4 linked regions of the Homo sapiens genome follow. The protein of the gene in region 1 interacts with the protein of each later gene in a biochemical or structural test. Each region holds a gene or a part of one and is shown in the gene's direction. Other genes may lie near its edges. The genes, in order: STON2, EHD1, SYT1 and REPS1.

The links.
Region 2: the proteins of STON2 (region 1) and EHD1 interact in a biophysical measurement, tested with the Homo sapiens proteins (one study listed by IntAct).
Region 3: the proteins of STON2 (region 1) and SYT1 form a complex in vitro, tested with the Homo sapiens proteins (2 studies listed by BioGRID).
Region 4: the proteins of STON2 (region 1) and REPS1 interact in a biophysical measurement, tested with the Homo sapiens proteins (one study listed by IntAct).

What each region holds. Positions count from the first base shown.
Region 1 is NC_000014.9:81,271,310-81,278,346, reverse strand, and holds part of STON2 (stonin-2), read left to right. Parts: coding exon 1-1,446; intron 1,447-7,037. UniProt on the Homo sapiens protein: Adapter protein involved in endocytic machinery. Involved in the synaptic vesicle recycling. May facilitate clathrin-coated vesicle uncoating.
Region 2 is NC_000011.10:64,854,622-64,861,658, reverse strand, and holds part of EHD1 (EH domain-containing protein 1), read left to right. Parts: intron 1-1,322; coding exon 1,323-1,735; intron 1,736-6,172; coding exon 6,173-6,337; intron 6,338-6,801; coding exon 6,802-7,037. UniProt on the Homo sapiens protein: ATP- and membrane-binding protein that controls membrane reorganization/tubulation upon ATP hydrolysis. In vitro causes vesiculation of endocytic membranes. Acts in early endocytic membrane fusion and membrane trafficking of recycling endosomes.
Region 3 is NC_000012.12:79,448,737-79,452,508, forward strand, and holds the end of SYT1 (synaptotagmin-1), read left to right. Parts: intron 1-181; coding exon 182-388; 3' UTR 389-3,272; downstream 3,273-3,772. UniProt on the Homo sapiens protein: Calcium sensor that participates in triggering neurotransmitter release at the synapse. May have a regulatory role in the membrane interactions during trafficking of synaptic vesicles at the active zone of the synapse.
Region 4 is NC_000006.12:138,943,252-138,950,288, reverse strand, and holds part of REPS1 (ralBP1-associated Eps domain-containing protein 1), read left to right. Parts: intron 1-2,375; coding exon 2,376-2,499; intron 2,500-4,591; coding exon 4,592-4,788; intron 4,789-4,916; coding exon 4,917-5,070; intron 5,071-5,666; coding exon 5,667-5,791; intron 5,792-6,273; coding exon 6,274-6,436; intron 6,437-6,712; coding exon 6,713-6,776; intron 6,777-7,037. UniProt on the Homo sapiens protein: May coordinate the cellular actions of activated EGF receptors and Ral-GTPases.

The sequences.
Region 1 (7,037 bases):
ATGTACAGCCCTCCCCTATCAACCCTTTCAGTGCTTTCTTTGAGGAGCAGGAGAGGCGCTCCCAAAACAGTTCCATTTCCAGTACCACGGGCAAAAGCCAAAGAGATTCCCTCATTGTCATCTACCAGGATGCCATCAGTTTTGATGATTCAAGCAAAACCCAGTCACACTCTGATGCTGTTGAAAAACTCAAACAACTCCAAATTGATGACCCTGATCACTTTGGCAGTGCAACTCTACCTGATGATGACCCAGTAGCCTGGATTGAACTAGATGCTCACCCGCCTGGATCAGCACGGTCCCAGCCTCGTGACGGGTGGCCAATGATGTTGAGGATCCCTGAGAAGAAAAACATCATGTCCTCCAGGCACTGGGGACCGATCTTCGTCAAACTGACAGACACTGGTTACCTGCAGCTGTATTATGAGCAGGGCCTAGAAAAACCATTCCGTGAGTTCAAGCTGGAGATCTGTCATGAGATTTCAGAACCCCGGCTTCAAAACTATGATGAGAATGGCAGAATCCACAGCTTGCGGATAGACCGTGTCACCTATAAAGAGAAGAAGAAATACCAGCCCAAACCTGCTGTGGCCCACACAGCAGAGAGGGAACAGGTGATTAAGCTGGGCACCACCAATTACGATGACTTCCTGAGTTTCATCCATGCAGTTCAGGACCGTCTCATGGATCTGCCAGTGTTGTCAATGGACTTGAGCACAGTTGGCCTCAACTACCTTGAAGAGGAGATTACAGTGGATGTCAGAGATGAATTCTCTGGCATTGTGAGCAAAGGAGACAACCAGATTCTCCAGCACCATGTCTTGACACGGATCCACATCCTGAGTTTCCTGTCTGGGCTCGCAGAGTGCCGCCTGGGCCTCAATGACATCCTCGTCAAAGGGAATGAAATAGTTTTGAGGCAGGACATCATGCCCACCACCACCACAAAGTGGATCAAGCTCCATGAGTGCCGTTTCCATGGGTGTGTGGATGAGGATGTTTTCCACAACTCACGGGTCATTCTGTTCAACCCTTTGGATGCGTGCCGGTTTGAGCTAATGCGGTTCAGGACAGTGTTTGCTGAGAAGACCTTGCCTTTCACACTCAGGACGGCCACAAGTGTCAATGGGGCAGAGGTGGAGGTGCAGAGCTGGCTGAGGATGTCAACTGGCTTCTCCGCCAATCGTGACCCCCTCACTCAGGTTCCCTGTGAGAATGTGATGATCCGTTACCCTGTGCCCAGTGAGTGGGTGAAAAACTTCCGCAGGGAAAGTGTCCTGGGGGAAAAGTCTTTGAAAGCCAAAGTGAACCGGGGGGCAAGTTTTGGCTCCACTAGTGTTTCTGGCTCTGAGCCTGTCATGAGAGTAACTCTGGGAACTGCCAAGTACGAGCATGCCTTCAACTCCATTGTGTGGAGGATAAACCGACTGCCGGACAAAAACTCAGGTGGGTGGTGGTTCCTCTTCTGTGAAAACAAACATACAGTTGTGAAAAAGCTGAGATCAAAGTTCCACATCCTGTATGAAGTGCTTGTTTTTGCTGTGTGATGGGAGTGGTGATGGAGGGGGAGTGGGACCAGAAAAGTAAAAATAATTGAGCAAGGTAAGTAATGCGTATAGTGACCCAGTTCACTCTGTCTTTTCACCCTCTCATTATCACACATCTTCCATAAAACTAGGGATTATTCTTCTCAGCTGAGCTGCTAAGCAGCTTTTCAGGGCAGCTTCTGAATTTATATTCTTTGGGGACTCATTAACGTATTAGCTGTGGTGCTGGAAGTGATTCATTTCTAGATGGCTTCTGAAGAGACATCTTTCTCACACTGCCCTCGATGTAGGTAAAAGGGCCAGTTTATGGCCAATCATGGACAATACACTGAGAGGTTAATTTTACGACTCCAGCTACCCTGTGCAGGGTCTGTTAGTCATAATATCTCACATTCAGACTTTGGCTCTGGGACTGGGGGATGGGAAAGAAAAGTGGCCTTCAATCAGACTGAAGATCCAGCTAGGACATGAATTTCTAAAAGGGCCAGAAGTCTAGCAGACAAAATATAAAGAAAAGAATGTTTTATTTAGACAAACAAAAAAATGCTTACCAGCCCTAGCTGGGCTGCTCGCAGCTATCAGGGATGCTTTTGTGCTTGAGTGAGTCCAGAAGGCAATTACTTCCCCCGTGGGTCCCGTGAGATTTAGTGAAATGACAAAATGAGGGAGCAGTCAAACCAGCACTAATACACATATTTCTTAGAGTATGTCTGGGTGACCCCAATGGTAGGCAGCAAGCCCATGATCTTGTAAGCCATTAAACCCCTTCTTTTCTTGTTTAGAATACATTTTGCCCATCTGTTAACGAAAGTGGATACGCTAGCTGAGCAAAAAGGATAAGGTTTGGAAAAACTCTTGAGTGAAATGGCTTTCTCTTATGTGGCTATCCTTTCTTAGATTCTCACTATAAATCGTAGCAGTGTGTTAAGAGTCTTCCTCTCCCGCTCTGAGTGTGGAGTGTCTGTATTATTATATCCTAAGTGTAATGCAATGTGACGGCCGACGGCAGTATAATCGGGCCAGCTCCCCAGGCAGTCCAGGGAGTGGACACACACCAGGGCATTCTGTATCAGACACTGGGTGTAGCTATGCAAACTGAAGAGACAATTGGATCTCTGTGTTTGAGGCTGGATTTGCTACTCCCTACTTCTAAACTGACAGAATTTTTAAAACCAAGTGTTCCTCTCTGTGCCTGCTTATTCATTTCCCCTGAAATCAGCACTGTCTTCTGCTGGTGGTAGCACTGTAACTTCTACCTTATCCACGGGGCCCCTCTGAATTGACAGAGGAAGAGAGAAAACCCTGAACTCTCCTTTGACACGGAAGCCCTTGGAAAGAGACAACCATGGAATTACCGGATTTTCAAGCTGGAAGGGACCTTGAATAACTTAGTCAAGTTATTTATAGATGAGAAAATTAAGGTCGGGAAGGTGATGTGACGTATCTAGAGAGTCATGCAGTCACATCCAGGGTCCTTTTCTTAATATATCACTGGTGCCTCCTGGTAGATGAAGCCAAATAGACACAAATATTGAAATAATTTCCACCAGAAGAACAGATATTTGCAGTTTTTCCAGTATGTACAAACGTATCTATTTGTTTCAAAGTGATTTCTCCCAAACATTTAAAAGTACTGCATGAAGGTTTATTATTATTATTATTATAAGCAACAAAGACTTATCGGCTACCCTAAGCAACAAAACAAATTATTGGATAGGATAGCTCAGAGACCTGAGGAAAAGACTGATCAAGAGAAGACTTTAGACAGACAGCACTAGAGTAGCTCTGGTCATAGAGACTAATGGATGTCTCCTCAGCATGTAGCCTTAGGACAAATCATCACAGACTATTTTTTGTTTTTGTTTTTTTGTGTTTGTTTGTTTGTTTGTTTTTTTGAAATGAAGTCTCGCTGTGTTGCCCAGGCTGAAGTGCAGTGGTGCGATCTTGGCTCACTGCAACTTCCACCTCCTGGATTCAAGCGATTCTCCTGCATCAGTCTTCTGAGTAGCTAAATTTTTGTATTTTTAGTAGAGACAGGTTTTCACCATGTTGGCCAGACTGGTCTCAAACTCCTGACCTCAGGTGATCCGCCTGCCTCGTACTCCCGAAGTGCTGGGATTACAGGTCTGAGGCACCGCACCTGGCCCTATTTTTTGTACTTTTGCAACTTGGCTCAAGAGACTAGGGGAGAGGAGTGCATTTTGACTGACGTGACCACCAAGACAACATGTAGCACCGGGGAAGATTATTTCCCAAAAGGAGAGAAAGAAAAAGACTGCTACCAGAAGAGAGGGAGGATGGATACAGGACAGGGAAAAAGCAAAACCAGGCCTTCAGCAAACACTCTCCTTAATGATTCCCAGTGGAGAGTGTTCTGTTGCCTCAAGGGCAAGTAAATGCAGCTTATATGCTGTTTTACATATCTGTTTCCAGATTGCTGGAACCTCGTTTGTGGAAGATTTTTGAAATACAGCACAGCATAAGGATATCTGTTGATGTTTCTTACTTAAATCCTCACAGCCTTGCCCCATTACTGATTTTGCTGTCATGGTTATATAACAATATTTTCAATAGTGAAACCCCATAAAGAGGCTTCTTATACTTCTCTAGCCAGTGGTATGTTTCCATACCAGTTCAGGAAATGGACAGCACCCTTTTTTGGAAACTTGAGGTGTATAGGATCTGAATTCCAGGCAGAATGTAAGTTCTCACTCATTGCTGGTATTCACTGTGCCCAGCTCCTGCCCTCCCTTGCAGTGTTCCATCCGGGAACCCAGAGAATTGATGGTTATCTTTCAGTAATAGCCCTTTCCTGGGCTCTGCTGTCTAGGTGTTCAGACAGCCCTGGGAAGGTGCTTTGTACAGGTTATTTTTTGTAATCCTTAACCTTCTTTAAGGAAGCTAGGGCTCAGCTGAGGTCAAAGGCCCCGCTGACTGGAAGCCTACTTCTCCTCACACGTTCCTGCCTACGGTGGCCCTGCATTTCCAGGCCCCAGTGGGCAGGGCAGTCAAACCCCAGGCAGCAGAGGCCAGCAGGTCAGCAGGTCAGCACCCTTGTGTTGCTGGCATCCCTAGCCTATAGCAGGCTTGTCCCAGTCCCAGCCACCAAGAGATCAAGCAGCTACCTTTGAATTCCAACGTGACTCCCGCCGGCGGGGCCCAGCCCAGCCTGGCCCAGCCCAGCCACATACGTGGGCAGCTCCCCTCTCTGAGCTCTCCAAGGACCCCTCCTACCTTCATCCCAAGAGTTTTTCTTAATCTTAGAAGGCACCGAAACAAGTCCTGCTGCTTCCACAGATCATCTGCCAGGAAATAAAACATTCTGTCCTGCATAAGTGGCTTTCTTTGCAGGAATCCCCCTTCTCATTAGACCAGGTGAAGGGAAAACAGTCCCAATATGTTCATCCTTGTATGGGAAATTTTAAAAATCTGAATTTTTTGTTGTTGAATTTTCTCAACCTCATCAAGGGAAATGACAGAATGTGTGGACTTATTTAATGCATTACTATGAATTAAACCATAATAGCTTTCAAAATTGAACTTCCTTAACTGTCCACCACCCTTACCCATCTGAGAGTCGATGCTAGAATTCTAGTAAAGAATGCTGCTTTCAGAATTTGCTGTGAGTACACTTTGGTGGAGTAAAAGGAGGGAATCAGTTGTGTAGAAAGGAAAGATTTCTCCATATTCCAACAATGTGCAAAATAAGTGTAATTAGATTAAAAGAGTTGTCCAAGTTGCTATTAAATTAAGAGATGCATCTGTATACTTTGTTGTGATCTAATTTCACAGCAATATATTGAGAAGAATTTAGGACATAGTTTGAAGGCAGAGTCATCTCTGAATCTTATTTCCAGCTCTACCACTTAACGGCTGTGTGACCTCGGGCAATTTACTTAACCCTCTCAGAGAAACCTAATTTTTTTCATCTATAAAATAGGGTTATTAATATCTAGTTCATTCAGAATGAAATGAGATAATGCTTTTAAGGGCTTAGTGCAGTATCTGGCCTGTAATAAATGTCCCATAAATGATAGCTGTATAATTACATCTGTGGCACACAATTTAAAAACATTGAGTGGATTCATTTTCAATTACTTTAATTTTTACTGTTATATGTATCTTAAATTCTTTTCTGAAAATCAGTGCAAATTTTTCAATATTCCAAAGCATTACTCTTTAGAAATAACCACTGAAATATGTTACGTTTGTGAAACAGAGCAAAACAAATACTTCACTATCTAATGTTTTCCTTGGAGAGCGGGTGTGTATGTCCTTACTCTCTGAGATTGAAAAGTCCTAGCCAGACCAATAAAGAACATTGGAATTGTTTGTTTGTGGAAACTGGGATAACTAAGGGGCTGTTTCAGTTACATAATTAAGGCAAGGTCATTTCATGTTGTTTATCTATAGCTAGTTGCTATATGGGGGTTCTTACAGCTCAATCCCTCTCTACCCCTGTCACCCTGCAAACTTGGTCTTCTGTTTTGGGGACCATGAGGTTATAACTCAGACAAAGTGGTTAAGAACACTCTGGAGTCAGACTGCTAGGTTCAGTTGTTTTTTGTTTTTTGTTTTGAGACGGAGTCTCACACTGTCACCCGTGCTGGAGTGCAGCGGCGCAATCTTGGCTCACTGCAAGCTCTGCCTCCCAGGTTCACACCATTCTCCTGCCTCAGCCTCCCGAGTAGCTGGGACTACAGGCGCCCGCCACCACGCCCGGCTAATTTTTTGTATTTTTAGTAGAGACGGGGTTTCACCATTTTAGCAGGATGGTCTCGATCTCCTGACCTCGTGATCCACCTGCCTCGGCCTCCCGCTAGGTTCAGTTTTTAGCTCTGCCACTTTCTAGCTGTGACTGTGGGTAGCTCATTTTACCTCCCTAAGCCTTAGCTTCCTCGACTATAAAATGAAGGTAACATTCTGACCTGAAAGATCATACTGAAGACTCAAAGAGAGAATCTGTATAAAAGATTTAACATAGAAGAAGGCATAGGGTACTTCAATGTTTCCTGTATGGCAGGTGAATGACAATGATGTTTCAGTGGTTATAGTCACAGCAGTAAGCTCTCTTTTTCCTCAAAAATCTCAATAACAATTCTCAAGTAAAAATCAAACCCAAAGTTTGCCATCACGAGTATAGTGGAGTTACCCATAGATGTATAGAATTAAGGAGCAGCAAGGGACTGTGCCTGGCATTGCCCAGCCCACCCTGTTGTACTTCTCCCTCTTTATCCCTTGTACCCTAATCTCCCCACTTTACAGAGGAGGAATTGAGGCCTGGAGAGTATAAAGGACTTGAGGGCAGGAGCTCTGCTGCTTAGCAGGGGAGCTGGAAGTCCAACCCAGGTGTTCTGCTGGTTGGTGTTTTGTCCAGTGTTCCATATGCTTCCCTAATATCTATGTGCTATTTATAAAGTCCTTGTCATTTACATATATCATTTACCCGCAAAAGCATGCCAAAAGCATTTTGAAAGTATGAAATACTAT
Region 2 (7,037 bases), on another chromosome or scaffold:
CAAATGAGCATGGCTGTGTTTCAATAAAACTTTATTTATACAAACAGGTGGTGGGCCAGGTTTGATCCCTGAGCTGTAGTTTGCCAACCCTTGTTGCAGAAAATAAGTGAGATTCCTGCAAAATGGGGAGCCTGGCACATCAGCACTGAAAAAGTAGCAGCTGCAGTTACTTTTGCAGGCGCCTCTTGTCACTACCGTCCCAGGGCATACAGCAGGCAGGTGGCAACACTGGAGTCTATGTTCTACCCTCTGTGCTGTGCTGAGCACAGTGCTGGGTCTCCTCCTCACTCTCGCCCTCCTCTGACCCACCTTAGAGCTTGCACTGTGGGACGACCTTTGCATTAGCACCTGTTTATGCCAAGTGCTACATGGGTTGGGGAGTGTTATGGTGGGGGCAGGAATAGGGGAGATAATCCTGCCCTCAGGGTGCTGTGCTGTCTAGATGAACACCTAGGAATTTTTTTTTTTTTTTTGAGACGGAGTCTCGCTGTGTCACGCAGGCTGGACTGCAGTGGCACAATCTCGGCTCACTGCAACCTCTGCCTCCTGGTTTCAAGCAGTTCTCCTGCATCAGCCTCCTGAGTAGCTAGGACTACAGGCATGTGCCACCACACCCGGCTATTTTTTTTTTTTTTTTTTGAGATGGAGTCTCACACTGTTGCCCAGGCTGGAGTGCAGTGGCGCAATCTCAGCTCACTGCAACCTCTGCCGCCCAGGTTCAAGCAATTCTCCTGCCTCAGCCTCTCGAGTAACTGGGATTACAGGTGCCCACCACCATGCCGGGCTAATTTTTGTATTTTCAGTAGAGACAGGGCTTCACTATGTTGGCCAGGCTGGTCTTGAACTCCTGACCTTGTGATCCACCCACCTCAGCCTCCCAAAGTGTCGGGATTACAGGTGTGAGCCACTGTGCCTGGCCTTTTCTTTTTTTTTTTTTTTTCGCGACAGTTTTGCTCTTCTTACCCAGGCTAGAGTGCGGTGGCATGGGCTTGGCTCACCACAACCTCCACCTGCTGGGTTCAAGCGATTCTCCTGCTTCAGCCTCCTGAGTGCTCGCGCCACCCTGCCCGGCTAATTTGTGTATTTTTAGTGGAGACAGGGTTTCACTATGTTGGCCAGGCTGGCCTCAAACTCATGACCTCGTGATCCTCCCACCTTGGCCTCCCAAAGTGTTGGGATTACAGGCGTGAGCCACCACGCCCGGCCTATAGGAATTTTAAAAACTATCTCAGGCTGAGAAATACCAGGCCAGGTTGGAGATGAGAGCCATCAGAGCAGCAGGTCCCTTGGCGCCCCTGAGCTCTCCCTTCTCTTCCCCCCAGGCTATGACTTTGCAGCCGTCCTGGAGTGGTTCGCGGAGCGTGTGGACCGCATCATCCTGCTCTTCGACGCCCACAAGCTGGACATCTCCGATGAGTTCTCGGAAGTGATCAAGGCTCTGAAGAACCATGAGGACAAGATCCGCGTGGTGCTGAACAAGGCAGACCAGATCGAGACGCAGCAGCTGATGCGGGTGTACGGGGCCCTCATGTGGTCCCTGGGCAAGATCATCAACACCCCCGAGGTGGTCAGGGTCTACATCGGCTCCTTCTGGTCCCACCCGCTCCTCATCCCCGACAACCGCAAGCTCTTTGAGGCCGAGGAGCAGGACCTCTTCAAGGACATCCAGTCACTGCCCCGAAACGCCGCCCTCAGGAAGCTCAATGACCTGATCAAGCGGGCACGGCTGGCCAAGGTAGACCCTGGGGTGAGGGGAGCAGCCTATTGCCAGGCAGGGCCATGGGGCTCTGAGACTGGCACTCAGGGCCCCAGGATTGCCCGAGACCCTTCCCAGCTCACTTCACAGGCAGACCTGCACTGCGCTGTTTCCCTCTATAGAAACCAGTCTTTGGTCAGCACCCGCGTGCAGCCTGCTCTTAACTAAGATTCTCTACCCGGCCTCCCTCTAAACCTGTTCTGTTTGTGGTTTATACCCCATCTACTTTCAGGAAGGGTTTGACTGTGCTTACAACACAGAAACAGCACACAGGAAGTTACCGCTGAAGCAAAGGAGGCAGCCTCAGAAATGGAGTGTTGGGGGATAGAGCTCTAAGGCTTGTTGGCTTCCCTCTAGGGTTTTTTGTTTTTGTTTTTGTTTTTGAAGCGGAGACTCGCTCTGTTGCCCAAGCTGGAGTGCAGTGGCATGATCTCGGCTCATAGCAACCTCCACCTCCCAGGTTCAAATGATTCTCCTACCTCAGCCTCCCGAGTAGCTGGGATCACAGGCACGCACCACTATGCCCAGCTGATTTTTGTATTTTTATTAGAGACAGGGTTTCACCATGTTGGCCAGGCTGGTCTCAAACTCCTGATCTCAGGTGATCTGCCCACCTCAGCCTCCCAGAGTGCTGGGATTACCCCTCTGGGGTTTACTGAGCCTGAAGTGCACTCAGCACAGTGCTGGATGCCGGGTACTGGCGGGGAGTGACACACAGCCCCTGTCCACTCCTCAGCCTTCATGGGGAAAGCAGAGCACGCAAACAAAAAATAAACATCAGTTATTTGTGTCGTCTCGGAGCGAGCACAGGCTGCTGCGGGAGCTGGCGCTAGGGGCTGTCCCAGTGGAGTAGAAGGGCTGGGGGGGCCTGGCAGGAGCTGAAGCTTAAGCTGTGACAGGAAGCAGCTCGTGAGGAGACAGGGTGCCAGCCTGCAGCCCGGGGAGCACTGTGCATGGAAGCCAAGGTCACGCTGAGGCAGTGTCAGTTCAGCAGGCCTTGCAGACCATCCTTAGGTCTCCTGGCAGCCCAGGCCTGGTGGCACCTATCAGCAGCCTCTGAATGGCCAAAGGGTTTGGAATCTCAGTGGCTGACCAAGTACTTGAGTGAGAGCCGGTGTGGGTGGGGCCAGGAAACAAAGGTTAATGCCACCAGCGGGCCCTTCCAACACAGAATGACAGAACACATGCCCTTGGCGTGTCTGACTTTGGATAGCACCCTATCGTGAGCCAGCCTAGACGAGTCACCATGAGTGACAGTCCCGGCTGTGGTTGGGGTTGACCCCGTGGACAGGAGTGTTTGACACAGATTGTCTGAACAGCTGAGAAGTGACCAAGCCCACATTTGTATCAGCAGGGCACCTAGCTATTCTTTCAGGCTCTTAGCACAGGGCTCGGTTGTTTCAGAAATAGGCTCCAGCCAGGCATGGTGGCTCATCCTGTAATTCCAGCACTTTGGGAGGCCAAGGTGGGTGGGCGCATCACCTGAGGTCAGGAGTTCGAGACCAGCCTGGCCAACATGGCAAAACCCCATCTCTACTAAAAAAAATACAAAAATTAGCCGGGCGTGGTGGTGCGTGCCTGTAATCCCAGCTACTTGGGAGGCTGAGACAGGAGAATCACTTGAACCCAGGAGGGAGAGGTTGCAGTGAGCTGAGATCACACCACTGCACTCCATCCCAGGTGGCAGAGCAAGACTCTGTCTCAAAAAAAAAGAAAAGAAATAGGCTCTGGCCAGGCATGGTGGCTCACGCCTGTAATCCCAGCACTTTGGGAGGCCAAAGCAGGAGGATCCCTTAAGGCCAGGAGTTAGAGACCAGCCTGAGCAACCTAGTGAGACCCTGTCTCTATTTAATTTAAAAAAAAAAAAAAAAAAAAAGGCCCTTGCCGTAGCTCCTATCTCCAGGCCAGCCAGGCCGGAGCGTGGCTGGGGAACTGTCCTGCCTGCCAAGCCAGGCCCTTTGGTGATACGTCCCCAGTTCTTCAACAGAGCAGGGTGCTTGCCCCCACCTCATGGCATGCAGGGGGTACCAGGGTAGACATCATGTGGGCATGAAGGCTTCAGTGACAGATGTGCCTGTGGCCAGGGTCACAGTCCCCTGATCTCCAGAATATAACTGAGGACTGAGGATGGGCACTTCCTGGGGAGCCCATGTCCCTGCCTGCTCAGAGGCATGGAGACTGCAGGCGTTGAGCACAGTGGCCCTCGTACCCACTCTGTCTGGAGGCCAGTCAGAGGGCATGTGGGTGCTACCTGGTCTGAGCAGTGAGAACTGACCCTTCATCCTTTGCCACCACTGTCCTCCCATTGTGCCCCAAGTACCCTGGGCCCCACCTCACCCTGTAGATGAGGAATTCTCATTCTGGCCTGAACCTCCGTGAGCTGTGTGCACGGGCGTGGGTCAGATGCCGGCTCTGGAGGACAGAGGGCTGCGTGTTTTTCTTATTTTTAATTTTATTATTTTATTTTTTGATTTTTTTGGAGATGGAGTTTCACTCTGTTACCTAGGCTGGAGTGCAGTGGCGCAATCTCGGCTCACTGCAACCTCCGCTTCCCAGGCTCAAGCCATTCTCCTGCCTCAGCCTCCTGAGTAGCTGGGATTGCAGGCGCCCGTCACCACACCCAGCTAATTTTTATATTTTAGTAGAGACGGGGTTTCACCATGTTGATCAGGCTGGTCTCGAACTCCTGACTTTAGGTGATCCGCCTGCCTCGGCCTCCCAAAATGCTGGGATTACAGGCGTGAGCCACCGCGCCCGGCTGGCTGGATGTTTTTCTAGATCTCTCCCTTCTGGAGCCTCCCTGTGAGTGGAGCCAGCTTTGAGAGAGGAACCCATACAAAAACCCAGGTGACTGACCCTGGCCTCAAAGGACAAAGGACGTCCTGAGCTGAGGGGTGTGGGTGTGGCCCTAGCTGAGTTTCTCTCCTTGCAGGGCAGAGAGAGCTCCCTTGCTCAGCCACCTTTGAGGACAGACAGGACAAGGGGCAGGCATGAGCCCCTGCCTGGTCGTCTGTGAGACCATGTGTGACTGCCAGGCCCCAGGCACACTGAGTCACCGCGCCTGGAAAACCCTGTGGCCTCCAGTGTTGCCTCACACCTGCCACTTCCTTTTCCTGGAGTGAGTGGTGCTCTCTGTGATGACTCCCACCGGCCTGGGATCTGCCTGCCACAGTGTCCCTGGGGAGACTCTAGATCCAGACCCACATGGCACGGGGCTGCCTCCCTCAGGCAGTTCTCAGCCAGGCCCCCACCCAGGGCACAGGCTCAGGCTGAGCGGGGTGGTGGATGGGCTGGAGCCGGGGAGAAGGGCAGCAAGGCTGGCTGGCCGCAGCCCTCTGTGGCTGGACACGACTTGGCAAGGCCGAGGGATCTGAGGGCTGGGCTACTCTCGAGGGCTGCCAGGTTCCCAGCTTGCTGCAGGGAAATGAAGGGGGTGCCGCCCTGAACAGGCACATGCCTAAGCAAGGTATTGATGCTTGGATAAAGCTGGCAACCACCAGGAGAAGCCTTTTTGGGATTTTTCAAATCCTTCGTCATCCGAGCTGTGATGATGGAGTGGAGCGTGGCACGGGCCCATTGGAGTTCTGTGGGCTCCATCGGCACTCAGCAGGGATTTGGACGTGCAGGCTGGTGGGCCCTGCAGGAAGCCTGCTCCCTGCTCTGCTGCGTGGGAGGGGGCAGCTCGGGGGAAGGGGGCTTGCAGAGAAACAGAAGAACATGGGCTGTGGGGCACCTTCAGCAGCCCGGGGTTCCAATCCCAGCTCCTCCATGTGGGAGCCAAGCACCCCAGGCAGCCTTTCCCAGCCTTGCTTAGGGCCGGGTTGGGAGAATCCCACCCCGCAGGGCTGTGGTGAGGGTTGAACGGAGGGTGTGTGGTGAGGGTTGAGCGGAGGGTGTGTGATGCGTGGTGAGGGTTGAGCGGAGGGTGTGTGATGCGTGGTGAGGGTTGAGCGGAGGGTGTGTGATGCGTGGTGAGGGTTGAGCGGAGGGTGTGTGATGCGTGGTGAGGGTTGAGCGGAGGGTGTGTGATGCGTGGTGAGGGTTGAACAGAGGGTGTGTGATGTGCCCAGTGGTACACGACAAATTGCCTTCTTTGGGTTGACAGACTGGGTTTTACTCTTCCTGAATCATCACAATGATCCGTGCAAGGCCAAGGCTGTTGTCTTCTGTTTCAAGTGCGTTTTCCTGTCCTGTCCTCTGTCCTGTGGCAGTGGACAGCTGTGGCTCTTGCCAGATTGTGTCTGCTCCTAGGACTGTGGGAGCCGGTGGTGGTAGCGGCCTTGAGCTTGACCCATCCCTCCTGCTTCCCTGTTCCTGAGCGAGCACCTTGGAGTATCCTTGGAGTGTCCTTGGAGGCTCTGCTCTCGGGGGCAGCCTGGGCCAAGAGAGCGCCTGATGCTCACCCCGTCCTCACAGGTTCACGCCTACATCATCAGCTCCCTCAAGAAAGAGATGCCCAATGTCTTTGGTAAAGAGAGCAAAAAGAAAGAGCTGGTGAACAACCTCGGAGAGATCTACCAGAAGATTGAGCGCGAGCACCAGATCTCCCCTGGGGACTTCCCGAGCCTCCGCAAGATGCAGGTACGGCTGTCCCGAGGCCCCATGCAGGCTGGTGGCCATCAGGGCAGAAGGAAGGCCCAGGGCACTGGATTTGGAGGGAATCCCATCTCCATGGGGAAGGGCCTCCCTGAACGGAAGCAGCTGGGTTAATCACCAGCACCCCACCCAACTCAGAGTTGACCCAGGCGGTGACACTGCAGAGGGGAATGTGGTGACTCACCCTGCGTGGTGGGGGGAGGGCAGGGCCATGCCAGGCGCTCTGGTGCCCTGTCCATGAATCCTTGCCGCAGCCCTGCAAGGAAAGAGCTGGAGGTGCCTCCTGTGTACAGGTTAGAGAGCCAAGGGCCAGATGGTTTTGCCGAGTCGCCCCTGCTAGTGTGGGGGAGCAGCACTTTATGCTTGTGAAGCCCTGACTGGAACCACTTGGCCTGGAGTCTGGGAGGGGCCTCCCTTCCCAGCCCTTGTCCTTCCTCCCCCGCCCACAGGAACTCCTGCAGACCCAGGACTTCAGCAAGTTCCAGGCGCTGAAGCCCAAGCTGCTGGACACGGTGGATGACATGCTGGCCAACGACATCGCGCGGCTGATGGTGATGGTGCGGCAGGAGGAGTCCCTGATGCCTTCCCAGGTGGTCAAGGGCGGCGCCTTTGACGGCACCATGAACGGGCCGTTCGGGCACGGCTACGGCGAGGGGGCCGGCGAGGGCATCGACGACGTGGAGTG
Region 3 (3,772 bases), on another chromosome or scaffold:
AGTGCAAAGTATATAATAAAAATTAACGTTTGAGTATTAAGATTCAAGTCATTTTCATCCTCATCCTAGTGCTTGGAGATTGATTCTTCTATTTCCAATTCTTTAGCGCTCAAGGACGCTTTATAGTCGGGCCTTATCTCTAGAGCTAGATGATTCATATTCATTTCATGGCTTCTTTCAGAAAGTGCAGGTGGTGGTAACTGTTTTGGACTATGACAAGATTGGCAAGAACGATGCCATCGGCAAAGTCTTTGTGGGCTACAACAGCACCGGCGCGGAGCTGCGACACTGGTCAGACATGCTGGCCAACCCCAGGCGACCTATTGCCCAGTGGCACACCCTGCAGGTAGAGGAGGAAGTTGATGCCATGCTGGCCGTCAAGAAGTAAAGGAAAGAAGAAGCCTTTCTGCATTTGCCCATATAGTGCTCTTTAGCCAGTATCTGTAAATACCTCAGTAATATGGGTCCTTTCATTTTTCCAGCCATGCATTCCTAACACAATTCAGTGGTACTTGGAATCCTGTTTTAATTTGCACAAATTTAAATGTAGAGAGCCCCTAAGTCCTTCATCATACCACTGCCCTCCAAATCTACTCTTCTTTTAAGCAATATGATGTGTAGATAGAGCATGAATGAAATTATTTATTGTATCACACTGTTGTATATACCAGTATGCTAAAGATTTATTTCTAGTTTGTGTATTTGTATGTTGTAAGCGTTTCCTAATCTGTGTATATCTAGATGTTTTTAATAAGATGTTCTATTTTAAACTATGTAAATTGACTGAGATATAGGAGAGCTGATAATATATTATACGGTAAATATAGTATCGTCTGCATTCCAGCAAAAATATCAACTCGTAAGGCACTAGTACAGTTAAACTGACATCTTAAAGGACAACTTAAACCTGAGCTTTCTATTGAATCATTTGAGTACCAAGATAAACTTACACCACATACTTGGTGGGTGAATCCAATTTTGTAGAATTCCTACACAGGCAAAATAGCATGATCTGAGCAGCAGCATCCAGGCTGACCTCAAGGAAGCATAGCCACAAAACAGAATAGCACCTGTCTGTACATATTTACAAAGCTAAAATAATGGCTTCACTCTTATATTTGAGGAAGCAACTGAACAGGAGTCAATGATTTCATATTACTGCATATAGAATAACAACAAGGTGTTCCGTGTGTGTGTGTGTGTGTGTGTGTGTGTGTGTGTGCACATTTGTTTGGGGATGGGGGAGAAGAAGCTAAGGGGAGAAGTCAACATTTATGAAATATTGCCTGACTATTTAAAAAGAAAAAAGTAGCTCTCCATTATCACCTTTATACAAAATGTACATCCTGTGAATTCTGTTCCAGATTTCACACCTACAATAATTCCAAAAGGTTTGCACATTAGAGTTTGTAACAAAATATTTTATTATATAAAACCAGGTTAGAAGGAATGCAGGATATTTTTAACACAACAATCTGTGCTTATTACACAAAATTACTTTGTGGTAAACAGACAGTATTGTAATCCCATCAAAAGATGAAAGAAAAACAAAAACAAAAACCAACAACAATTAGCCATAGTTCTGAATGCACTTCAATTAAGCCAAAACAGACAGCTAGTGATCTTTTTATATGCTCTTTTTACTTAAGTTTTAATTTGTCCTTTAAAAAAAGGTGAAACAAACCAAGAACAAGTTCTAGAAAACTGAAGCAACCTCTTATGTATACTAGATGCTTGATTTAGGAGGAGTTTTTAAACGTTTTCAATGTTATTATGTAGTAAATGACACTATTATGAAGCTACTAGTCATTCCATAAGAGTCTTAAAGGACTGCTCTGTGTAACACTGTGACTGCCGTGTGTGCTTAGACCCGTAGTTTCCTCAGTGGATAGCACTCAATTTATTCCGTAGTGATATTGTAACAATACTGCCATTCCCTTCTACTGCACTGCCCAAGGTGTGTGTAGCACAAACAGTTCTCATTACAAAGGACCAATTCAGAACTGAAAAGCTATGCATAGGACAAGGAAGATACATAGAATGGGGTGGAACACAGCATTTTGTCAAGCACTGTGCAATATTCCATATTTTTCCCCACTATGGTAGACAACCATTTCGTGGAAGGGCAGCCTATTATCCCACACTGCATCTAGCCTTTTGTCCCATTCACTTCTGTGATCCATTTTAATTTCCAGGCCACAAGACAGTAGTGATGCTCTGAAATGAAAGTTTGTCTTCACAAATATCAAAACAAAATGGAGGAAAACTAAGCATTGGCCTCATGTTCAGTCTTCAGGATATCACACCACGTCTTTTCAAAAACTAAAGAGAATTCAAAAAGGGCTGATGGTAGGCTTTGAACATGGGGTTGGCTGTTTCCCAGTAAAACTGGAATTCCTGTCGTTACTGTTTCCTTATCAAAGAAGGGGCAAGCTCTTTTGCCTTTTAGGCCAGACATAGCAAACGCTTTATAATTGGCATAGACATAAAGGATAAAAGGAAAATAACCGTCTGCCGATGGTCCGTACTTCTTAAAAAACATAGGTAATAGAAAATATACACAAGTCAGAATGTGAAATTAAATAATGGTTTGAACAGAAAATTCAAACAAGACTCTTTCCAATTTAAAGGGCCAAACCCTACCAAAGAGAGGGAGTTGACTGGCTTTTAAAAAGTATTTAAATACCACAAATGACATTTAATTTCACTGTATTCAGCTTTAAGTTGTTCACAATGAAACCACACTTTCAAACAAGCAGGTTCAAGCTGCTGAATAGACATTATTTCTTGCATTAAAATACCACTAATGCATTCTCTTGCAACACTGCCAGACATGGGATTGTCACCATAGAATTAGTTGGTACTATGCCATCTTTCACTCTTTCACAAGTCAGTGATGGAACCTGCTTTATGACCAAGATTCATCCTCAAATAAGCCACATGTACCCTTCTGACAAAGCTGTGTAAAGTATTAGAATCTGATGCTCTAGAAAGATCCTAGTTGCCTTTGTGTATATTTACTGCCTGCTTGAGTGTTTCTATGTGTGGGTTTTCCCTGTATCTTGTAGAAATGTTGGGGTGTTTTCCTCTGCCATATGGCTCGTGGCCTGCGAGCCAACTATTTCAGCTGTATTTTACCTTCATTTTTGATGAGGTGATTTAAATTTTGTTTCACTTTGTGTAGTGAATTCCACAGTAGTTTTCTGATTGTTGTTAAAAATGACTTAACATATTACACAGATATTCAATAAAAATGTTTTATTTCCTGTTGATGTTGCTGCGTTCCCACTCTTTTCCTTGCCTGACTCTGGTGGTAAGCCAATGGCCTATTGACTTTGGGGGACTCCTGGAAGCAGCAGCAGCTAAACAAAACTGCACTGAATGCCAGCATCTGAGTCACATCTGAGTACAGAATAGCTAGAGGGAAAACAACACCCGGGAGCATTTGGCCATGACCGCGTGGTGTTCCTGGGCAGTGTCATTCTCAACATGTGTTTCTCTATTCCTGTGTGTCATCAGTTCATCTGGCGTACTCTGAGGCTTTTCACTTTGCCCAGCATGTGTCCTTCAGGGTTTTCACTCCAGAACCCAAGTCACACAGCTTCTCCAGAATGGGACGGAAAACAAAACTATTTAAACCCCAGTTTCAGAGGACAGTATGACACATTAAATTCTATGCCTACTACGATCGCTATGGGAAACAAGTAAATACTTTTCCTCCACTAAATTTAACATTTATCAAGTGCCTACTGTACTGGACGCTGAAGCCCAC
Region 4 (7,037 bases), on another chromosome or scaffold:
TTGCCAGGGCTGGTCTTGAACTCCTGGCCTCAAGCAGTCCTCCTACCTTGGCCTCCCAGAGTGTTGCAATTACAGGCATGAACCACTGCTCCTGGCCTCAATAGTTAACTATTGAGGAGGATCAAAAGGATATCTGATTTGTTTCTCATTCCAAAATAAATTCCAGTTTGGTCAGACTTGTATATTTTCAATATTAATCATAAACATTCTAGAAGAAAACATGTATAAAGACCTTTTTTCTAAGTCTAGCAAACCCAAAAGTCCTAAAGGGGAAATGACAAGCTTGTATAAAAATTGGAAAATTCTGTATCACCAAAACAGCTTTTTTGGAAAAAACAGATAAACTAGAAAACAACATGTGCAATATGATCTGGTTTCTGCCTAAGTCATCAGCTCCATCTGCTGCATTCCCTCCTCCCCATCAATTCTACACACACTTACAGCTACACTCTGGTCTTTCCTTCCTGAGGATGCTCAGTAAATAGTCATTGAATAAATGAATTAATTCCATGACAGTTTGCAGGTCAATATGTATAATATAATAAAACCTTTTTTTTTTTTATGAGATGGAGTTTCAGTCTGTCACCCAGTCTGGAGGGCAGTGGCATGATCTCGGCTCACTGCAACCTCCATCTCCCGAGTTCAAATGATCCTCTCACCTCAGCCCCCCGAGTACTTAGAATTACCAGTGCGCACCACCACACCTGGCTAACTTTTGTATTTTTAGTAGACATGGGTTTCACCGTGTTGGCCAGACTGGTCTTGAACTCTTGATCCCAAGTAATCTGCCCTCCTTGGCCTCCCAAAGTGCTGTGATTACAGGCATGAGCCACTACCCCTGGCCACAATAAAACTTCTTAAAATGAGTAAAGAAGATTAACAGTCCATTTAAAGTTGCCAGAGAACAAGTTGGGCAAGTCAGGAAAAGAAATGCAAATGGCTAACAAATATAAAACTTTTAATAAATACCAATTAAAACAGCATTGAGATTCTGTTTCCCTTCTTGAACACTACCTCCTCATTTCTAACCATTTCCCTGGTGTCTTCCCAAAATGTCAACAAACCATACTGTGATCTCCTTTTAGGTCTTCCCTCTGTCTAGCATATACCTGGCATATGTTAGTTGCATTGTTATATAAACAAAAGTATTTAAGATATGTAATGAACCTCTAAGAGGCGTCAAGTGGGCAGAAGAGTAGAGGATTGGGGCTGCATGACCTTGCCTTTTTAAACTCCCCTTTTCCTCATAGTTCCCTTGATGGTGTTAACCTGCCTGTTTATTCTCTTTGCCCTTTTACATTTCTTCAGAAGGACATGCTCCTTAGTGGCAGGAACAGGAACTTCTTCCAGTGCTGGTCAGCCAGCAAAAATGACTCTTTTTTGTGTATGTAAATAAATGGCTGTTATTGTTGTGATACAATTGCTTAATCATTAATAGGTCCTTTTTTTGAAGTCCTGTGAATAGTTTTATTCAGACTTAATACCACAGCATCTCAGATACCTTATCTTCCTTTGAGTGTTATGGAAAAATAGACTAAAACTGCTCTCTCTATACAAAAGTTTGTGTTATTTGAAAAGATACAACAGGCATGCCTAGTGTTTATTTTAAGATAAGATTATAATATCTGCATAGTAGAAACCTCCAGCTTTTAGAGTTATGATTTTGTAATCTGAAATCCTATTTTTTGAGTCTAATATTTACTTGTGCTAGCAAGTCTAGAAATACTTGTTGAAAGACTGGAATGATTAATGTAGATCCTTGAACACTTTCATGCTCTAAAAAAGACAAATTTTGTTTGTTTTAAAGAAGAGTAGTGTAGCCATATTAAACACATTTGGAAAATAAGAGGGAAAACCCGACTCAATCTCATCTGAAAAAATTGTGATAGACTTTTAAAAAATAGTTTCCAAATTTGTATTTATGTGGTTAAAATTAGGTATCTTGCCTTTCTTCCCCACTTGATAAATCCTTAGTATTTTTCCATGTTGTTATATCATTTAAAGACCGTCACTTTAAATGGCTGCATAATAGTCTCTTAGTCACATGGTCCTATTGTATGTGCAGTGCTTATGAATAAGAGTGGGTGGTACGTTGTTTCTTTAAAAATGTGACTCATAACAAAAATTTATTCTAAGAAAATTGCTAATCATATGGATTTTGATAAATAGGAGAATGATGACCTTATTGCAAAGCAGTGACTTTTTGTTTGTAAACATATGAACCTGAAACTTGAGGAAGTTGGTTGTCAGTTGTGAGTATTATACCATCTATTAGATAGATATTTTGAGACGTTACAAACAAGTTGGGTAGCTGCTTATTTTTGAAGGGAGATTTTTGTTGTGAATCTTAATGTTAACATTATGTTATTTTATAGATCATGGAGCTTTGTGGTGCAACAAGACTTGGTTATTTTGGAAGAAGTCAGTTCTACATTGCTTTGAAACTTGTAGCTGTTGCCCAGTCTGGTTTCCCTTTAAGAGTGGAAAGTATAAATACAGGTAAATATAGAGTACACTAGTAACCGAAAGAAAATAGGCTTCTATTACAAATGAAGTCAAGTCAATAGAACTCTTGTGTCTTTCTGATCTTATAGTGGCATTTGTGACCTTGAGTGAAGTGTCGTGACTTTATTCCCACTACCTTGCATTTCTCACTTGAAAATACTAGAAAAATATGTCTGACCTGTATTACGGCATAGTATATGTACTTCATCTGTATTTGACTATATGTACTGTTCAAATGGCAATTTTTTAAGAATTAATTTACCAAAAGTTGTTTAGAAATATTTTAGGCGAATAGTTTTATTAAGGTAAATGATAAATTACAGCGACCATCTTCATGTATAGCGTCCCTGTGTTCTTCATTTCCAATAAAACAACATTATACTTTGTATTTTTGTTTGTTTGTTTGTTTGGGAAGGCTGTGGAGGCTTCAGTTGAAATTAAGAAGTAACAGTTAACCTAAACTTTTTGATCGATAAGAGACAATATTAAAATATTGGCAGACTAAAATCTAGTTATAGACATCTGACCACATTACAAGTTTGTATTAGTCCATTTTAACACTGCTATAAAGAAATCCCTGAGACTGGGTAATGTATAAACAAGAGAGGTTTAATTGACTCACTTCTGCATAGCTCGGGAGGCCACAGGAAACCTACAATCGTGGCAGAACGTAAATGGAAAGCAAGGCACATCTTATGTGGCCACAGGAGAGAGAGAGAGAGAGAGAGAGAGAGAGAGAGAGAGAGAGCAAGGGGGAATAGCCACAGACATTTAAACCATCAGATCTCATGAGAACTTGCTCACTATCACAAGAGCAGCATGGGGGAACCGCCCCCATGATCTAATCACCTCCCATGTGGGAATTACAATTCAAGATGAGATTTGGGTGGGAACACAGAGTCAAACCATATCGAAGTGTTACATCAGATAATTTGTTTTTCAAGTATTTAGAGGCTTGTTGATGTGAAAGAAGATAGAAATTCTATAAAGAAAGGCACTTAAATGCAGAGGGTTCTTTCATTTTCATAGAGTAAAGGGGAAAGAGAAAAATTAAGATTTTAAAAATAATCTGTACAGAAAAATTTCTGTAAAATTCTGTAAATATCAGAATTTGTAGAAATAGTTTTAAGTACCAGTTTAGTTTATTGGTCGGTAGAGGTTTTCATTGTGGACCTCTAGTTTGCCACACATCATTCTTCTAGTGTTGGGAGTTTACATTCTTTTCAGGTAATTTTGAATTCTTTTACATGTATATTGAATAAGCTTAATAGTTTCCTTCCTTCATGTGGAGGTTCTAAACAGAGACGAAAGTAATCATGTAATGGAGGTAAGTACGCTTTCCTCTGAAATGATTTTGTAGCTGTATTTTTTCTGGTCTAAAAGTATCACTTATTTACCTGCAAACAGTTTCTCAGTCCTTCATCTTTCTCCTCTATTTAAAATTGAATGTAGAATATCTGGCTGTAGGAGAAACATAAGCCAGACTACAGTGGATAGATAGAATACTCTACCATATTTTTGGGGGGTGAACAATAAGGTATTTTTAAGAATTTCTGCCATGAAAATTTCTAAATCTAGTCTCAGACTTAGTGACATATTCTGTGTTTTACTTAGAGGTCTAAAATCTTACTTTAAAGACCCGGTGTGAGTAGAAGCAGCCTAGGCTTTGGGGTCTGACTGATCTAGGTTTATATCTTAACTGTCAGTTACTACAAGCATGACCTTGGCATCATGGAGCCTCAGTTTTCTTATCTGTAAATAGGAGCTTTGCAGGGGTACTGTGGTTACGAGGTGAAATAAATATTCAGTGGCAAGTATAGGGCCAAACATACGTAGACATTTGATGTAGCCATTGTTATCACTCATTAGAAGGACAATTTGGTTTTATTACTTCTTTCTAGATAAGAGTCTCCCTAAATAATGTAAGGGAGATGGTGGTCCAAATTTTGTGGTGATAGACATTTTGTGCCTCTTGTTTCTGTATCCATTTTTACAAAAATTCTAATATCTAATTCATGTCTTATTTTAGTTTTCAATATATATGTCCTTTTTTATTTTGAAGTAATGATTATTTTGTGGTTAACAGTAAAGGACCTTCCTCTGCCAAGATTTGTTGCTTCAAAGAATGAACAGGAATCTCGCCATGCAGCCTCATATTCTTCAGATTCTGAAAATCAAGGGTCGTATTCTGGTGTAATTCCCCCACCACCTGGCAGGGGGCAAGTGAAAAAGGGATCCGTAAGCCATGATACGGTTCAGCCTCGTACATCTGCAGATGCACAGGTAATCACATGCATGTAAATATTAGCAGTTGATGCCCTGTGCAAATGCTTCACTAAGGCTCTTATTGGTAGCTTAATAATTAAAATGTCTCCTTAAAGTTAAAATTTTAAAATAATATTCTTTTCTAGGAACCTGCATCCCCAGTAGTTTCACCACAGCAATCCCCACCAACTTCTCCACACACATGGAGGAAGCACAGCCGTCATCCCAGCGGTGGGAATAGTGAGAGGCCTCTCGCGGGACCTGGGCCATTTTGGTCTCCCTTTGGTGAAGCACAATCAGGTATTTAGAGATTGATTGATTAGAGTGTCATTGTGTTGCCCAGGCTGGTCTTGCACTCCTGGGTTCAAATGATCCTCCTGCCTCAGCCTCCTGAGTAGGTGGGGATTATAGGCTTGTGCCACAGAACCTGGCTTAGAGATTTTTTGAAAGTAACAATTATTTAGGGTTGTAAATTGAAGGAAACTTGATAATATTCCTTCAGGAGTTGCCTCCCAGATAGTTTTTAATTGTAAGTTTAAGTTAAATAGAAGCAAAAACCAACTATGGAAATTTGTAAGTGGATACATTGCTTTGAAAAGTGGTAATTGCATTTATGTGTATCTGTGATGTTTAGACAAGTTTATGGATACCAGATTCTCTAAAGGTAAAATGAATAATTATTTCCCAGAATATTATGTATATATTACATACATTTTATTGACAAGGAGAGCACAAAATAATTGAAGATATTTAAATGAGGTATAATTTCTAATAGAACAGAAAAGATTCCATTTTGGAAATTGTTAGATTTCTTCAGAGTAAGAGTTGGAAAGAAAACTTCCTAGTAACTTTTTTCCTCAAACATGAGTCAGCATGTTTACCCATTCTCCTTATAGGTTCTTCTGCTGGTGATGCAGTGTGGTCAGGGCATTCCCCACCTCCACCTCAAGAAAACTGGGTCAGTTTTGCAGATACTCCACCAACCAGTACTCTTTTAACCATGCATCCTGCTTCTGTCCAGGTGTGACATTTTATTGGTATTGCATTTTTATTTGCTTCATTCAGAGTATTGCTCCAGTCGTTGTTTTTATATTTTGCTGTTGCAGATTTTATAAATGCAAATCCACTCATTTATTTAAAAGCAAAATTCTGCTCTGTGCATTTCAAATCTGTTATCATTGGAATGTTTCAGCTGATTTTATTTCTGTTTCTGATTCCCTAGTGAAGTTTTGAAAGGTTTCTGCATCTGGAAATATATTTGCTTGGCTTTCTTAGCACATTTTCATAACTTTCTGTTGCTTACATAATTGCTGTCATTCTACTCGTTTCTATAATCATTGTGCAAAAACATATCCAATAATCTGACTGTAACAGATGTGTGGTTTTACATTTTAAATATACACAAAAAGCAAGTTTTACTTTCAAAGATAAATAACCTAGCAATCTTGGTCCATATAATCATGTAGGTAGATATTGTACTGAGGAAAAAATGTTTCATTACAGGACCAGACAACAGTACGAACTGTAGCATCAGCTACAACTGCCATTGAAATTCGTAGGCAATCCAGTAGTTATGATGATCCCTGGAAAATAACAGATGAACAAAGACAGTATTATGTAAATCAGTTTAAAACCATTCAGCCTGATCTAAACGGATTTATTCCAGGTGAGTTGTTGAAAACAGAAGTTCTTCTAGATGGGACAGGAGAATCTCAATTTCATAATATCAAAGACATTGTTTTATTGGTCATAGATTTTAATTATAAAATAATTATCAGATTATTTGTCTAAAAAGAATTTATAATCACTGGGGGCCAAAAACATGACATATTCACATATTAAAAATATCTTTTCCCAGTTAAAAAAGTCTAAGACTCTTACATTCTGTTCGTGGATCCGTAAGTTCAGAATAACATTAAACAACACTGTTTTAATATTTCAGGATCTGCAGCTAAAGAGTTTTTTACAAAATCAAAACTTCCTATTCTTGAACTTTCTCATATTTGGTAAGTGTGGTATATCATTAGTTGGGTAACTGGGTTGCTTCCAAGGAGTTTCTAGCAGATAGATTTTAGAGCCTTAAAAAATAAACAACTAACCCCTTCAAGAATGCTGTCAAAGAACTCAGTATTGCCTTACAATAGCCAGCTTCTCTCTTATTCTGCAGAAAAGAAATAAGTGATACTGATACAGTAGTTCTTTGTAAAGAGCTAAAATTCTTTAAGCTGTATCAGCTGTTTTTTTGTTGCTAGCATAATGTATGAGAT